Linked DNA regions of Homo sapiens: region 1 is linked to region 2. The links come from fine-mapping of genetic effects on gene expression. A gene starts in region 2. The other region holds a variant in brackets. All regions are shown on one strand. Distances are between the middles of the regions.

Region 1 (2,912 bases), 34 kb after region 2:
ACTCCATGGATTCCAGTCACTGTTTCCTGGTAAGATTGCATTTCTGAGCCAGCTTTTCTATCTATGGTGCTGTGGGTCATGGGGTTGGCTTTGATGCTGTGGCCTGAGGATCTTCCTAGGTATTTGGGGTTAGACTTAGAGAACAAAGAGCAAATTTTGTATAGGTTTGAAGACTCAAACTTATTAATACGTCTCTGAAGGACTCTAGGTTTATTCAGTCCTTACTCACCACCACCTTAACTTATACAAAATCAGTCAGACTCGCTACAGAATGACCTCTGAGATCATTTCTAAAATTCACAGCAGAAAAGGAACTGAAGTGTTTGATTCATTTTTCTTCTGCACTGATGATGTGGGCTAACTCTCAAGGCACCAAAAGTAAAATAGAGGTTGATTGTAGACTTGGAAGAAGAGGATTTGTTGTTTCTGTCTTGAGTATTTATGAAGAAATCTCCTCAGCCTCCAGCTTCCCCATAACAGACTGACCAGGCTATAAATTGGGCTAAGACTTTGAAGTGTGAAATGTTGGGGGGTGGGTAGACAGAAAAATGGGCTATCATTGCCACAAGCCACCCAGCACTCAGACAGCTCCTCTCATTTCTCAAGAAATCTATAATCATGGAGCGAGAAGAGATCATTTTGGAGATGATGAAATGGAGGCTCAGAGAGACAGAGATTTGTTCAATGCCACCCAGTTCGTTGGTGGGCATGACATTAAAGCCTGTGTCTTAAATTCAGCCCAGTGATTTGTCTATGATCCACAATGATGGAATCTTTAGATTTTGTATTTAAATGCCTGAAGAAACAGTTTTGAAATGACTAGTGCTGAGGAAGAAAAGAACACAATCAATCCAGGAGATACAAGAGACTCGTAAAACAGTTAAAATCAGAACAGAGTGTTCCATTGTCATATTCTTGAATCTGAAGGAATGGCAATGTGCTGTTCTGTGTGAAAGGGCAGAGCACTTTGCTTCTTGAAAACTCTTTCCTTTCTGACCTGACAAAAATCAGTTTATTCTGACCTTCAGAGTTTGAGTCAAGATACCATGTGTGGGGATGAGTAACATTTTCTTGGTTTTTCATAATGGATTGTTTATCTTTTAAGTTGCAAACAGTTCATTTTTTGAACTATATCTGTTTTACTGGCATTTTCCTTCTGAAGCAATTTTGCAAAAATCTCTTTCTTCCTCCTCCACAGGCATATAAATACCCTTTGCAATTACCACGTGTCTGACTTTACCTGTTTATTACAGAGGGAGCTTTCAGAAGTTCCAATTATACATCAAATTCATGGCCTAGATTGTACTTTGATCCTAAAAGTATAATTTAAGATAATTTTTGTCAAACAGTTACACAAATTATTGTGGTCTTAATTATTATTTTTTGTACATAAAATATATTTGTTTAGCTAGGTCCCCTTTTTAAGAAAATGTATTATTGGTGCCCCATAGAAGAAAGAAAAGAAAGAAAGGAAGAAGAAAGGAAAAGAAAACTTACCATCAGCCACCACCTGCTCTTAGTTAGAGTTCAGTTTTTTTTTCTGGGTTGTGAATTTCTCAATATTTTTTGAATGTTTATAAAAATCTCCAGAAGCAGTATAGGAAGGAAGAGTCAGTGAGATGCACACCTGTATCAGTCAGATGTTTTGGCTGTAAGTAGCAGAAACAGACAAAAAAGAGACCCCTAGTTTGCTTCAAATAATAAAGAAATTTATTGGTCTACATAATGAGAAGTCTAAAAATGGGGTGGCCTTCAGGGTGCATTGATCTTGCAACTCAGCATCATTAAGAACTCAGGTT[A/T]TTTCCATCTCTCCATTCTGTTAATCACAGTATAATCTTTGTTCTGAGACTGGTTGTTTTGGGGGTCAAAATATGTTTGTCAGCAGCAATGGAAGCTGCAGGAGTTCTTGTTCAGATTTAACTTCAAGGAGAGATAATCTCTTCCTATGGTTTTCTCTAGTGTCAGGAAAATTTCCCAGAAGATCCCAGAACAAACCTCCGCATACTGTATTTACCTAAATCAAGTTACTTGCCCATTACTGAACCCATTCCTGTCATAAATACCATGCTTAGACCTAGTATATAACGTTGTCCCCAGGAAGCAAACTCTGGGACAATTTGTGTGCAGGAGGTTAATTGGCCAGTACCCTCCTATCAACACTTGTGGAGGAATAAAGGAAGTGGGACTGGACAAAGGAAGGCGTTAAACTAAAGACTTAGTCAGTTCCACAGGGAATCCTGGCCTTTCAGAGTGGTCTTTCCTTGCATTAATTCTGCCCCAGCTTTATGCTCGGCTTTGAACAGTCACTGAATGTGAGCTGACTCCAGGGATACGGTGTGGTCTTGGGTAAGGTAGCCTTTGGCTTGGCTCTCCAGGGTAATGCCTAGAGAGGGGCTCAGCTGAGACCCATTAGTTACCAACACTTTTAGCATGGAGGCATTGTTGGGGAATGAGTATTTCAGACCTAAGGTGAAGGCATCTGAGAAGTACACCACAGCATACATTACATTTCACCTCTTGAGTCATTTGGATCTGCAGTCTTTGTATGTCTTCTGGGAATAGCTCCTCTAGAATTCTTAGTGATCTGTGTTCCTGGAGCTTACAAAAGTAAGGTTAGCAGTCAGGATGAATGACTGCCCCTGTGAGGGTTGAAGGATGAAACAAAGTCAACCTGCTACCAAGTGGCTGGTTCCTTTCTTCAGAGGATGGTGCTACTGCCCCTCTACCTGCAGTCATAGGCAGATGCGGAAGAATAGAAAAATTTCAAGTAGCACCAAACTAGCAGTTAGTTTACAATATTTTTCCTCCAGGATCTCCAGCTGGCTCTCAACATGGTCAAAATCTAGAAGTACCACTGTGGAACAGAAAGAAAGTCAAGGAAATACATTTAGCTCTGGCTTGAGGAACTCTTA
Region 2 (2,912 bases):
TTAACCTAACATTTGGGACTTTGAACTAAACTTTTGCACATGTTTTAAGAGCCCATTATCTCTTAAGTTGGACTCTTCCTAAATCTCTGCCGCCAAACCTACTTTATTGAAATCCTTTGAAACCCAAGTCTTTCCACATTTTGGCTCTCTCTGAAGTTTCTTTCTTTCTTTCTCTTTCTTTCTTTCTTTCCTTTTCTTAACCCTATATTATAGTGTCTGGTAATAACAACATATATAGACACCACACTATGTGTCTGGTAATAATATAGAGACCACACTATGTGCACTATGTACAATTATAATCCTTATTTTTATACAGGATAGAACTGAGGCAAGAAAGAGTAAATAACTTGCTCAAGGTCACATAGAAGGTAATTGAACAGAGAATCTACCCCAAAGCTGTGAGCTTAATTACTCTCAAGCTCCGGGGTCAAAGAGATCTGGTGTCCATTCTTATCACGTCTCCCTTTTTGCGGGGATGGTGCCTGTTAATTTATTCAGCTTCTTCGACGCGGTTTCCCTTTCAATAAGATTGAGATAAAGCATTTTTCGAAAGATCTAGATTGAGATAAAGCATTCTTTGAAAGATCTAGCAGTAAATGAGAGCTGCGTGAGGGATCCGATTCAGTCCCTAGCTCTGGATAACTGTCAGTGCTTCTACGCACCCCACCTTAAGCCCCTCGCAGGCAGGACTGGGTCCTGCTCCTCTAAATACTCCCATCTCATAGTGGGGGCGCAATAACGTCCGTTTAAGACGAATCGTCCAAGGGACTTCTATGCATCCAGCTGGCACACTGGCCGGAGTCTCACTTTATCCCCACATCTCTCCGCGCCCTGGACCTAGGCTTGCCACACTCTGCCATCCGCTGCTTTTCCAGCCCGGCTCCTCTCTCAGTCCGGGACTACTATCCCGGGCGCGGGCTCGGGTCTTACCATGGCATCGTAGCGCAGGGCGTTCATGAAGTGCGCCACCTCGGCGCCCTTGTACACGGTGAACCAGATAGTGCCCTGGTACTGGTCGCCGGCGTCCAGCAGCAGCACGTTGGGTTCGGCGCGGCGGATCTGCTGAACCTTGGTGAAGAGCCGAGCCACGCCACCCATGCAGCGGCTGGCGTTGACGCACTTGCTGGAGTCCTCGCTGGTCTGCTCCAGCCGGCTGTGCACGTCGTTGGTGTGCAAAATCGTAAGCTCCCAGGCGCCAGCCGCAGGCCACAGCACCGCGCCCAGGGCGAGGAGTAGCGTCGCGGGCGCCCGCGCGGCTCGGGGACACATAGCTGTGGCGCGTGAACTGGGTGCGAAAGCGGGCGAGCCGGGCGAGTGCCGGCGAGTAGGGGCGAGCAGCTAGGGCCGGGGCTCGGTGCCCCGGCTGGAGGGGCGGGGCCCGGGTCAAGGCCGGGGCGGGTCCTTCTTCAGCCTGGAGGCCGGCTTGGCGGCCAGGCGCAAGTTCGCGACGTCACCCGATCCGACCCTGGTACCCGGAGCGGCCCTGGCGCGGCTGTCGGCTGGCACCAGCTCCCTGCAGGAAGAGTGGAGAGGTTGTTCCCGGCGGGGAGCGGGTACCGGCCGCATCCCGGCCGGACCAGGGAGCCTGGGCGCCGGCAGTTCGGCTGCTGGTGCGCCGCTCTTTCGGGGGCGCGAGGAAGGAATTGGAGGGGTCCGCCCCGCGCCTGGGTCCTCTCTGAGTCTCGCCTCATTCGAGGCACGGGTTTTTCTACAAAAGGAATGTATGGTTTGTGGTTGCGCTAGCTCATCACTTCAAAGAACCAAAGAAGGAAAAGAGAGGGGGCGGGAAGAAAGATGAGCGAGCTGAGGGGCAGAGAGGAGGAGTAAAGAGAGGCCGGGCAGAGGAGCTCCTTGCAGTTTCGGGCTGTGAGAGCCGAAGCTCACTGAGATGTGACGCTTCCTGTTGGGTTGAGAACGCACGAAGTCTACGATGCTTAGACAAAAAAATCTCAGAAACTAAGAAATCATTCGAATCCAGTTCCTTGTTTATTCACAATTAAAACCTTAGTGATAAAACAGAGGCGACGCGCGGACAGCTCCTGGAAGCAGAAACACGATTGGGGTAAAATCCGGCAGCTATCAGGACGGGAAGGGATGCTGCCCTTCTTTGCTTTTCTGGTCTTATTTTATTTTATTTTATTTTTATTTTGTCGCGTGTGCTTTCGGTGTCGCAGTGAAGTCATAGCCAAATACAATGTTAGGAAGATTTTCCTCTATGTTTTCTCCTAAGAGTTTTATAATTTAAACTCTTAGACCTTTAATCCATTTTGAGTTAATTTTCATATGTGGTATGAGTCCACATTTACTCTTTTTCATGTGGATATCCAGTTTTCTTAGTACCATTTGTTGAAAAGACATTCTGTGCCCGTTTTTAAGACATTGACCTGAGGTTCGGAGATTGTAAATCATTTGCCAAGAAAGGCCATGCAGTTTGGGAGCAGCAGTGCCTGGGGCTACAGAAGACCCTTGCTTCTGGGACACCCTCTAATGTCATGCTTTGCAAGGTTTTGCTCTGTCCCTCTTTGAGCACCTGCTAGAAGCAGGTAAAAGAACTGGTAGTTTTGCTGTTTTAACTTAAAAAAAGAATGATTTTAGACTTACAGAAAAGTTGCAAAGGTAATAAAGGGAGTTCCCACATACCCATCACCCATATTGCCTTATGTTAACAGCTTATATAACCAATGAAACTAAAAACTTAACAGTGATACGAAACTATTAACTGTGTTACTGATTTTATTTTAATTTCACCAACTGTTCCACTAATGTCCGTTTTCTATTCCAGGACCCAATTCAGGATACCATATTGCAGTTAGTTTTCCTGTGTTCTTAGCCTCCTCTAATCTGTGACAGTTTCTCAGTCAGTTGTCTTCAAAAACCTTGACACTTTTGAACAGTACTGGTTTCTGTAT

What was found.
Region 1: its variant is fine-mapped to the expression of NT5E in whole blood (INTERVAL, PIP 0.95).

What each region holds. Positions count from the first base shown.
Region 1 is chr6:85,414,314-85,417,225 of GRCh38, reverse strand. No RefSeq gene overlaps it. Among named protein-coding and RNA genes, the nearest start is that of LINC02535, 11 kb to the right of the region's middle. The variant A/T (reference allele first, on the strand shown) is at 1,800.
Region 2 is chr6:85,448,500-85,451,411 of GRCh38, reverse strand. NT5E (5'-nucleotidase ecto) reads right to left here and starts at 1,329. Exons shown (of 9, transcript NM_002526.4): 1 at 934-1,329. The coding sequence starts at 1,272. RefSeq lists a silencer at 1,267-1,536.